Homo sapiens: one gene and its partners. The protein of the gene in region 1 purifies or fractionates together with the protein of each later gene. This does not show direct contact. Each region holds a gene or a part of one and is shown on either strand. Other genes may lie near its edges.

Region 1 (3,723 bases):
TCAAAAAAAAAAAAATACAAATACAAATATTAGCCGGGCATGGTGGTGTGCTCCTGTAATCCCAGCTACTCAGGAGGCTGAGGCAGAAGAATCACTTGAACCTGGGAGGCGGAGCTTGCAGTGAGCCGAGATCGCGCCACTGCACTCCAGCCTGGGGGACAGAGCAAGACTCCGTCTCAAAATAATAATAATAATAATAATAATAATAATAATAATTAAAAATTTAAAAATGTAAAAAAAGAAACCTGCATCCTACCCATCCGACCGGAAAGGGGAGGAGTTGACTAAAAGTGGGGTATACCAGGGAGAAAATGAGAAGCCAGCGGTCCCTAAATTCCAAATCAGAACCAGCCTTGAATACCAAGGGAGCGAGGCTTGAAGCCCCTCCCTCCCCTCCCAGAACTCAGGGAAGTCTGCAAATGAGACGGAGGAAGTAATGTCTCTGGGTCCCGGAGAACTCACAGTACAGAATCTCATAGTCCCCGGAGTTGGTGACAAAGCAGCTGCTGTCCTGGGCCCAATCCAGGTGGGTGATAAAACTGGAATGGCCCTGCGGGGGAGGGAAGGGATGGTGTTAGAGCTGCAGAGGGCGGAACCAAGGAGAGGGGGACAGGATTAAATCAGGAAAGTGGAAGTCAAATACAGAGGTAGGGCGAGAACACAAGGGGACTAAAGGAAGGATACACAGGCCTTTGGAGTATGGGGGCAGGGCCAGAATACTGTGGGCGGGGCCAGACTGTGATGGGCAGGGCTAGACAAAAAGCACTTAGAACACAATGGGAGTTTAGAACAGGTGGGCAGGGCTAGACACGGAGGAGCTGGCTTTGAATGTTGAGGGGCGGGGCTACACAGAGGGGCGGTCTCGGAACGTGAGGGGCGGTCTCGGAACGTGAGGGGCGGGGCTACACAGATGGGCTTAGCACGTGGGGGCGGGGCTACACAAAGGGGCGGGCTTAGAACACACGAGGTGGTGAATGTGTGGACGTGGCCAAGACTCCTTGCTCTGATCAGGGCAGAATCAGTTGAGTGTTGAAGCTGCGCTCCCTTGAGGTAGAAAATTGGTTAATTTTGCACCCCCTGGGCGGGGTGGCGGCGCGGGCTGGGGGCCACTGCCCACTCACCGAGCACTTGCCCAGGCGGCTGACCTTGCGGCCGCCCTGGTCCACCGTGTACACGTACACCAAGTTGTCGTGGGAGCCCACGGCCAGGTACGCCCCGTCTGGGGGAGGGGGAGGGGGGCTATGAGGAGGCACCCAGGCTCCATCCCCTCCTCGCCCAGACTCAGCCCCCTCAACAGTCCCCAGCTCCATCCCCACTGCATCCCTCCTAGGCCTCGCTTCGCAGGCTCCACCCCTCCCCCTGCCAAGAGCTCTGAGCCTCTGTCCCCTGGCCCTGCCGCTTGGGTGTCCCAGGCCTGCCGCTTACCTGGGGAGAAGCTGACCACTGAGATCTGTTCATTGCCGTCTGTGTGGATAGCCACCAGGTCATGGGTCTCCGTGTCCAGCAGCAGCCATCTTGAAGGAGAGGGCGTGGTGGGGGGAGGAGGGGTGAGCTGATCTGACAGAGAGAGGCCGCAATCTGTGGGGTCTAAGGGAGGGATCAGAGGGACCCCAGAAGTGACCTGGGCTGGGCACGGTGGCTCAGGCCTATAATCCCAGCACGCTGGGAGGCCGAGGCGGGTGGATCACTTGAGGTCAAGAGTTCGAAATCAGCCTGGTCAACATAGCAAAACCCCGTCTCTACTAAAAATACAAAAATTAGCCAGGCGTGGTGGCACGTGCCTGTAATCCCAGCTACTTAGGAGGCTGAGGCACGAGAATTGCTTGAACCCGGGAGGCAGAGGTTGCAGTGAGCTGAGATCGCGCCACCGGACTCCAGTCTGGGCGACAGAGCAAGACTCTGTCCCCCCAAAAAACAAAACAAAACAAGGCCAGGTACAGTGGCGGTGGCTCACGCCTGTAATCCTAGCACTTTGAGAGGCTGAGGCAGGTGAATCACTTGAGGTCAGGAGTTCGAGACCAGCCTGGCCAACATGGTGAAACCCCGTCTCTACTAAAAATAAAAAAAAATTAGCCAGGCATAGTGGTGGGCGCCTGTAATCCCAGCTACTCGGGAGGCTGAGGCAGGCAAATCGCTTGAACCTGGGAGGCAGAGGCTGCAGTGAGCCAGAGGAATATTGAGGGATCAGGGCTCGGTAAATAGTGGGATTTGGGAAAGTAGGAAAGAGGGAAGAAGGGCCAGTTCCCCAGGGAGCAGAGAAGGCCTCCCGAAATGCTCTCCTCAGCTTTACCTGCCAGTCACTGTACCCACAGCCAGGACAGAGCCACTGGGGTGGAAGCCGGCTGAGCGGGCAGGGTCCTGAGAAGGGAGAGAGAAGAGGCAGGGCTCAGAGCTGGGGTCCCATGTCCATCTGGACATTCTCTTGCCTCAGGGCCAAGTCTAATCTTTGCATGAGGGCTCTCCCCTCCCTCTGCTGCCCTTTGGGACACCCCCACCCCAGACACCATGGCAGCCATTCCTCTTTACATTTCTGTAGCATGTTAACCTGAACAGAAACCATTCCTCCTGTCACTCCTGTCCCGGGATCCCTCCTTACTCCTCTTCTAAATTCCCACAGCTTTATTCATCCAAGACGACTTCTTTAGATAATTTCCTAGATGTGGGAATGCTGGGACAAAGGGCATCTAGAATTTTAAGACTTTATTTTTGTTTTTTATTTTTTAAATTTTTATTTATTTTTTTGAGATGGAGTTTCACTCTGTTGCCCAGGCTGGAGTGCAGTGGCACGGTCTCAGCTCACTACAACCTCCGCCTCCTGGGTTCAAGCGATTCTCCTGGCTCAGCCTCCCAAGTAGCTGACATTACAGGCGCCCACCACCACGCCCGGCTAATTTTTGTTTTTTTTTTTTCATTTTTTGTAAAGATGGGGTTTTGCCATGTTGCCCAGGCTGGTCTCAAACTCCTGGATTCACACAATCTACCTGCCTCAGCCTCCCAAGTGCTGGGATTACAGGTGTCAGCCACCACACCCAGCTGAAATTTTTATTCTGTTTACATTTTAATTAATTGTGAATAGCCATGTGTGGCCAGTGGTTACCCTATGGGACAGTGTAGCTCTACACTTGACTGTTGCAGCGGTCACACCTTCCTTGAACTCAGCGGCTCCTGACTCCCCCCTCCTCATGGCGGCACCCCTGACAGGATGGTTCGGTGTCGTCCTGGGCTCCCTTCCAGTCAAGAACCTACTCCTCCAACCCTTCTGAGAGAGCTTCTAAGCACCCAGTTCCCTAGATGAAACCCCCACCCTGCTTAAAAAGACCTTGTTTGGGCCAGGCTTGGTGGCTGGCATCTGTAATCCCAGCACTTTGAGAGGCCGAGGCGGGCGGATCACGAGGTCAGGAGTTCGAGACCAGCCTGACCAACATGGTGAAACCCTGTCTCTATTAAAGATACATAAATTAGCTGGACATGGTGGTGTGCACCTGTAATCCCAGCTACTCGGGAGGCTGAGGCAGAAGAATCACTTGAACCCGGGAGGCGGAGGTTGCAGTGAGCCGAGATCGTGCCATTGCCCTCCAGCCTGGGTGACAGAGCGAGACTCCACCTCGAAGAAAAAAAAAAAAAGACCTTGTTTGGTTTCAGTCTAATGTGCTGAGCCCTGACACAGGGGGAAAGGTAGTTCTGTTAGAATGGTGCTTTTCCAGTCCCCGGGCCCCTTACCTC
Region 2 (3,500 bases), on another chromosome or scaffold:
TGATCATACCACTGCACTACAGCCTGGGCGACAGAGCAAGACCGTGTCTCAAAAAAATAAATAAAATAAAATAGAACCCTGAGGTTCACTGAGTCATTCAGCTGCTAAATTCAGAGCTAAACAGAACACAATTAGTTCTTCTGAGAGCAGTCCTCTTTCTGGTACCAAGGATCAGAAACGCTCATAAAACGTGTATTCCTCTGCTTTAATTTATATCTATAAGGAAATAAACTTGGAGGAGGGGAATCTATTTTATTTTCTAGTATCTAGAAAAGGAAGTTCCAAAGTAACAAATTCCCCCTCCGTCACATTAACCATCTGAATCAGCACCATGGGACAGAAATGAAATGCAAGCCATGAGTAATTTAAAATTTTCTGGCAGTCACGTTAGAAAAGATAAAAAGAAACAGGTGAAATTAATTTCTTTTCTTCTTGTTTTTTCTTTGAGACCGAGTCTCGCTCTGTCGCCCAGGCTGGAATGCAGTGGCACAATCTCAGCTCACTGCAACCTCCGCCTCCCCAGTTCAAGCGATTCTGTTGCCTCAGCCTCCCGAGTAGCTGGGACTACAGGCACGCGCCACAACGCCAGCTAATTTTTCTTTTTCTTTTCTTTTCTTTTCTTTTTTTTTTTTTTTTTTTTTGAGACGGAGTCTCGCTATGCCACCCAGGCTGGAGTGCAGTGGTGCGATCTGGGCTCACTGCAAGCTCCGCCTCCCGGGTTCACGCCATTCTCCTGCCTCAGCCTCCCGAGTAGCTGGGACTACAGGCGCCCGCCACCACGCCCGGCTAATTTTTTGTATTTTTAGTAGAGACGCGGTTTCACCGTGTTAGTCAGGATGGTCTCGATCTCCTGACCTCGTGATCCGCCCGCCTCGGCCTCCCAAAGTGCTGGGATTACAGGCGTGAGCCACCGCGCCTGGCCAAATTTTTCTATTTTTAGTAGAGATGGGGTTTCACCATGTTGGCCAGGCCGGTCTCAAACTCCTGACCTCAAGTGATCCACCCACCTTGGCCTCCCAAAGTGCTGGGATTACAGGCATAAGCCACCATGCCCGGCATTTCAATAACATATTTTATTTAAGTCAATATACTCATTATATTGTCATTTCCATATCTAATAAATTTAAAAATATTATTTTGGGTTTATATTTTACATGCTAAGTGTTTGAAATATGGTGTGTGTATTATCCTTACAGCACATTAATCAGGACTGGCCACTTTTCAAGTACTCAATAGCCACTGATGGCTAGTGGCTTCCATCTTGGACAGCATGGTTCTGAACATTCATTAGAATCTTCTGAGTTACCTCTCACCAAGGTGCCAGGCAGGTCTGCAGCTATGGTTTGTAGAAATGAATCACTGAGGTTCTATTTCTGGTCCTGCCGACACTGCAGTAAATAGATTTGGGCGAGGTTTGCTTAATTCCCCCTGCTTCAATCTTCCCATCTGCTGAGTTTTCTATTGCCCTTTTTCTATTCAATGAGGAACCATGTCAAGTGTGAAGAGTATGGGAGGCCAGGCACGGTGGCTCATGCCTGTAATCCTAGCACTTTGGGAGGCTAAGGCAGGTGGATCACTTGAGACCGGGAGTTTGAGACCAGCCTAGCCAACATGGCGAAACCCCTGTCTGTACTAAAAATACAAAGATTAGCCAGGCGTGGTGATGCATACCTGTAATCCCAGCTACTCAGGAAGCTGAGGCACAAGAATTGCAATTGCTTGAACCCAGGAGGCAGAGGTTGCAGTGAGCCAAGACTGTGCCACCTGCACTCCAGCCCAGAACTGTGTCAGCTTTAGCTCTTAAAGTTTCATGTCCTGCCTGGGCATGGTGGCTCATGCCTGTAATCCCAGCACTTTGGGAGGGCGAGGCAGGCAGATCACCTGAGGTCAGGAGTTTGACATCAGCCTGGCCAACATGGCAAAACTCCATCTCTACTAAAAAGTATGAAAACTAGCCAGGCACGGTGGCACACGCCTGTAATCCCAGCTACTCGGGAGGTTGAGGCAAGAGGATCACTTGAGGCAGGAGGATCATTTGAACCCGGGAGGTGGAGATGGCAGTGAGCCAAGATCGTGCTACTGCATTCCAGACTGGGTGACAAAGCAAGACTCCATCTCAAAAGAATAATAATAGTAATTTTAATTTTTAGGGGGCATATCACACAAGGGTTTATAATTGTACCTGATGATTTTGTACATGATGGGGTTGGTGTAGAATGGCTCATCCAGCTCATTGTGGCCCCACTGCCTGTAGCACAACAGATCAATAATCACATCCTTGCGGAACTGGCGTTGGTATTCAAAAGCCAGTCGTGTGGCACGGACCACTTCCTCTGGGCTGTCTCCATTGACATGGATGATGGCACAGCCCACAAGCTTCCCTGAAGGACAGAAGACCAAGCCGAAACAGGACAGTTAACCCAGAATGACACTGGCCCTCTCTAAGCCCTACTTCCTGCATCAAAAGACAGCCCAATCCTCACAGGTAGATATTGGTTTGGTTAACAACCCCAGCTTTGGAGACCAGCTGGCAAGTTCCAACTCTGGGACTTATTGTGTGACCTCGGTAAAGCTACAAATCTCAACCTACTTATCTATAAATCGGGAATGGGGCTCCTACCTCTTAGTGATGTTGCAAAGGTTCGATGAGTGAATGCACAAACAATTGTAATGCCTAACAGTGCCTGGTACATAGTAGTTAATATTTATTTTGTTACTGTTATTATCATTACTCTCTTTCTCCCTGAGATAAAAGGGTCATTAAAGGATGTACCTTAGAAAAAGATAAATTTGCTCCAAAGAATCTTCATCAGACTAATCATAAAGGATTCACATAGACAAGCCCAAGAGGCATCCAGTCCAGGCTGTTTGTATAAAAGGAGAATAGTTGCTACCATCAAACAGCCTTGTAAACTGTGAAACTGGGAATGGGTAATAACAGCACTGTCTTTATCTTAAGATGACCAATTTCAGCCTGGCACAGTGGTTCACGCCTGTAATCTCAGCAGTTTGGAAGGCTGAAGAGGGATCACACAAGACCAGAGGTTCAAGACCAGCCTGGGCAACACAGTGACTCAATCTCTACAAAAATTATTTTAAAAATTAGCTGTGGCCAGGTGCAGTGGCTCACGCCTATAATCCCAGCACTCTGGGAGGCTGAGGCAGGTGAATTACCTGAGGTCAGGAGTTTGAGACCAGCCTGACCAACATGGTGAAACCCCGTCTCTACTAAAAACACAAAATTTAGCTGGGTGTGGTGGTGGACACCTGTAGTCCCAGCTACTCGGGAGGCTGAGGCAGGAGAATTGCTTGAACCCGGGAGGTGCAAGTTGTGGTGAACCGAGATGGCGCCATTGCACTGCAGCGTGGGCAACAAGAGCGAAACTCCATCTCAAAAAAAAAAAAAAATTAGCTGTGCATGGTGGCATGTGTCTGTAAATCGCAGCTACTAAGGAGGCTGAGGAGGGAGGATCTCTTGAGCCAGGGATGTCAAGGCTGCA
Region 3 (3,723 bases), on another chromosome or scaffold:
CCTTATTAAACCCTGGAGAAGGCAAAGTGTAATGCTGGCACGTGAACTGAGAACGGCCAGGCCAAAGACCCCTGAGCACATGGTCTCCGGCCTCCACCTCCTCTCAGAGGTGGACGGACGGTGTCTTGGTGGCATTCGGGATGGGAGAAGGTGAACCCGCTTCCAACCGGGGCTTTGGTTCCCCAGTGTAGAAAGCACAGCAGCACCTGTGCCGCCACCACTGAAGAAACAGTTGCTGTGGAAGCATTCTCTCTCCTAGTGGAAAGTTAATATAGGTATTGCTCATACTAACTGCTGCAAGCTTTTTCATGTATTTCTTTCTAGCCTTTTTCTTTTTTTTTTTTTTTTTTTTTTGAGATGGGGTCTCACTCTGTCACCCAGGCTGGAGTGCAGTGGCACAATCTCGGCTCACTGTAACCTCCGCGTCCCAGGTTCAAGCGATTCTCATGCCTCAGGCTCAGGACTACAGGGAGGCGCCACCATGCCCGGCTAATTTTTGTATTTTTAGTAGAGATGGGGTTTTACCATGTTGCCCAGGCTGCTCTCAAACTCTTGACCTCAAGTTATTTGCCTGCCTTGGCCTCTCAAAGTGCTGGGATTACAGGCATGAGCCACTGTGCCCAGCTGCCTTTTTCTTTTCTGCATATGTTTCCTCTCCTGTACATTTAGCTGGGTTCTGTGCTGTCTTCCAGACACTGTATCATCACATTCTCATGTCATGACAAGGCCCTCATGTTCTCAGCATTTCTCACTTTATGGACATTCAGGGAGCTTCTAGCTTTTGTGCACGATAAGGAGCACTGCAAGTGACAGTCTTGTACATGGAACCCTGTGGCGGAATCACTGGGGTCAAGGGTGTCCTGAGCAGCTGCCCCATAGCCTGGCTCCCGTTGGAAGATCTCATGGCCCAGGCAGGTACACCCTGCGGAGTTGGGGCTTGGCTCTCCACTCCAGCCACAGGCACTCGCTCTGAATGGTCTCTGCAAGTTATACACCACAGATGTGATTTCCAGGCCTCCACAGTGAAAAAATCCCTAAAAAGGTTGAAGCCTAGAGTGCTCTTTGGAAATGTTAATGCTCCATTGCATCAGGGCTCCAACGGATGTGAATACATAGCAAAAGCTAGAAAAATCTTTCTCCCTCTAGACATCTTTATAGGATAAGACAGTGCAAACAGATGGTCACCTTACCTTCTCAATCAGATATAAAGCCCAGTGCCAATAGTTATGACAAGCCAACATATCAGAGTCCTGGAGAAAAAAAAAAAAAGAGAATTTATGAAAAGTCTGAAGGCCTATGGGAAAAAAACAAATGTTGTTTTGTGCTAATGCAGAAACCATCATCTTTTTTTTTTTTTTTTTTTTTTTTTTTGAGACTAAGTCTGGCTCTGTTGCTCAGGCTGGAGTGTAGTGACACGATCTTGGCTCACTGCAACCTCTGCCTCCCGGGTTCAAGCAATTCTCCTGCCTCAGTCTCCTGAGTAGCTGGGATTACAAGTGTGCACCACCACACCCGGCTAATTTTTGTATCTTTGGTAGAGACAGGGTTTCACCATGTTGGCCAGGGTGGTCTCGAACTTCTGACCTCAGGTGATCCGCCCGCCTCAGCCTCCCAAAGTGCTGGGATTACAGGCATGAGCCACCGCGCCTAGCCACAGAAACCATCATCTTTGAGTGCAGGAAACAATATTCTGCACTAGGTGCCTCCAGGCCACATAATCTTCTTCCATTCCGAAGGGCGGTGAAGAAATTATGCTGCATTTACCAAGGAGGAAACTGAGGCTAGGGGAGGTTCCCAACCTACTCGCCTGAGCTGGGGAGCAGCAGCCCCAGGACCGGTGCAGAGGAAGTTACTTCAGCAACTCCAGCTTTGCCTTCCTCACATGTGAAGTTGAGAAAAGGATTAACAGAACCACTCCACAGGGAGGTGCGAGGCCCATGGGTGCCTAAACAGCTCAGGGCACTTGGATAAAACTGCAAGGATCAGCCGGGCACAGTGGCTCATGCCTGTAATCCCAGTACTTTGGGAGGCCGAGGCAGAAGGATCAACTGAGCCCAAGAGTCCAAGACCCACCTGGGCAACATAGGGAAGAGACCCTGTCTCTCTAAAAAAAAAAAATTTTTTTAATTAGCCAGGTGTGGTGGCACGCACCAGTAGTCCCTGCTATTTGGGAGGCCGAGGTGGAAGGATCGCTTGAGCCCAGGCGGTCGAGGCTGCGGTGAGCCCTGATTGTGCCACTGCACTCCACCTTGGGCGACAGAGAGAGAACTTGTCTCAAAAAAAAACAAAAACAAAAACCTGCAGAGATCAACAGGCCCAGGGCCACACTCCAACAGGTGCTGGCAAAGCCCCGAGAGCCAGGGGAGTGGGTGGTATGTGGGTGGCTACCTTAGGCTGCCCTCAGTATGAAGCAGTGTTAAAGTAGGACCTGTGCTGGGCTCAGAGCTGGCCCCTGCTAGGGTATTTCCAAGCTCAGGAGACTGGACTCGTGATCCTCAACAAGCTAGAGTGCCCAGCACTCAGAAACCTCAAACAAACCTCAGTGTCCCTGAGAAGGGAACCTGACCACTGCCCCCTTGACAGAGCCGAATCTGGAGGCCCGAGGATCCTCCGCAGCAAGGCTCAGACTGCATGGCCCCTGCTTGGGAGCCAAGTGCACACCCTTCCCTGATTTCTTGCTGCCCCAAATACAAAGCAGGTATTCAGTAAACGCTGAGTGAGCGACGCTGTGTCCCTGTCCCAGGGGAGGCCCCATCTCCCTTGAGCCCAATAGGCTCACCTGATGCAGCCCCGTCTGTCCAGAGGGCCCACCTCCACCATGGTGCTAGCCTTTCCTTCCCTGAGGCCTCTGCAGGCGTTTCTGCCTCTGCCTGGACACCACCTTGCCTCCCCTGGAAAGAGGGACTGACAAGGCCTCCTGCACAGCCCATGTCCGCCTTGTACCTGGGCTCTAGGACACCAAAGTAAGCAGCTCTCCTCTCCCTCACAGGCCACTGTAGGCCTTGGAGGCCTTGCTCAAGCTAGTGACGGGCTAGGATGCCCTCCATCTTCCCCCTCTGTGTGGCACACACCTGCTCATCCTTCAGTAGCCAACTCAGAGGTTGCCCCCTCCAGGATGCCTTCCCTAGCCACTGTCCCCCCAAGCCCAGTTGAGTTTAATGCTTCCTCTGCGTTTCCACATCCCACAGAGGGTCCCCGTCATGGTGCAGCTCATGTGCTTTGAAGAGGCTGCTCGCTCCTCCTGACCAGGCCCTGTAAGGACAGAGAAGTCTGGGCTGGACCCTCAGTGGAGTCCCTAGGGCAAGGTATGGGCCTGGGGTGGGGACTGGAATCTTGATTGCATTCTGCTCAGCAGCCAAACACCTGAGGCAGGTGCAGGTGGAGGAGGAGAGGGAACCCCGAGAATTAAGCCATGCCCTGTAACTCTTGTCCATAAAGCCTTGGCCTGACTCAAGGGGATGCACTGAATTTCCCAGGGAGGTGACCCATTGACAAGCATCATACCTTCCAGAAGGTCTCTGAGTGCTGCATGAATTCCAACCCATCCTTGATCTCTGCTTTCATCTCGTGGATGTGAGCGACGGTGTGCACCGACCATGCGTCTGTCGGGTTAATAGATAAAGCCTACGCAGGGTGCGGGGAAGAGGATTCCAGATAAAGCAGATCAGTCAGGCTGCCGGGGCAGGCGACGGCAGGTCTCTAAGGGGCAAGAGGGGCCTGGGC

The links.
Region 2: the proteins of EML2 (region 1) and DHTKD1 fractionate together in Homo sapiens (co-fractionation; one large-scale study listed by BioGRID). This does not show direct contact.
Region 3: the proteins of EML2 (region 1) and TTC38 fractionate together in Homo sapiens (co-fractionation; one large-scale study listed by BioGRID). This does not show direct contact.

The regions. Positions count from the first base shown.
Region 1 is NC_000019.10:45,615,340-45,619,062, forward strand, and holds part of EML2 (echinoderm microtubule-associated protein-like 2), read right to left. Parts: coding exon 3,721-3,723; intron 2,359-3,720; coding exon 2,291-2,358; intron 1,515-2,290; coding exon 1,426-1,514; intron 1,220-1,425; coding exon 1,122-1,219; intron 551-1,121; coding exon 463-550; intron 1-462. UniProt on the Homo sapiens protein: Tubulin binding protein that inhibits microtubule nucleation and growth, resulting in shorter microtubules.
Region 2 is NC_000010.11:12,092,954-12,096,453, reverse strand, and holds part of DHTKD1 (2-oxoadipate dehydrogenase complex component E1), read right to left. Parts: intron 2,382-3,500; coding exon 2,183-2,381; intron 1-2,182. UniProt on the Homo sapiens protein: 2-oxoadipate dehydrogenase (E1a) component of the 2-oxoadipate dehydrogenase complex (OADHC). Participates in the first step, rate limiting for the overall conversion of 2-oxoadipate (alpha-ketoadipate) to glutaryl-CoA and CO(2) catalyzed by the whole OADHC.
Region 3 is NC_000022.11:46,281,500-46,285,222, reverse strand, and holds part of TTC38 (tetratricopeptide repeat protein 38), read right to left. Parts: exon of another isoform or gene 3,625-3,723; coding exon 3,505-3,624; intron 3,253-3,504; coding exon of another isoform or gene 3,211-3,252; exon of another isoform or gene 3,074-3,210; intron 1,251-3,073; coding exon 1,191-1,250; intron 1-1,190.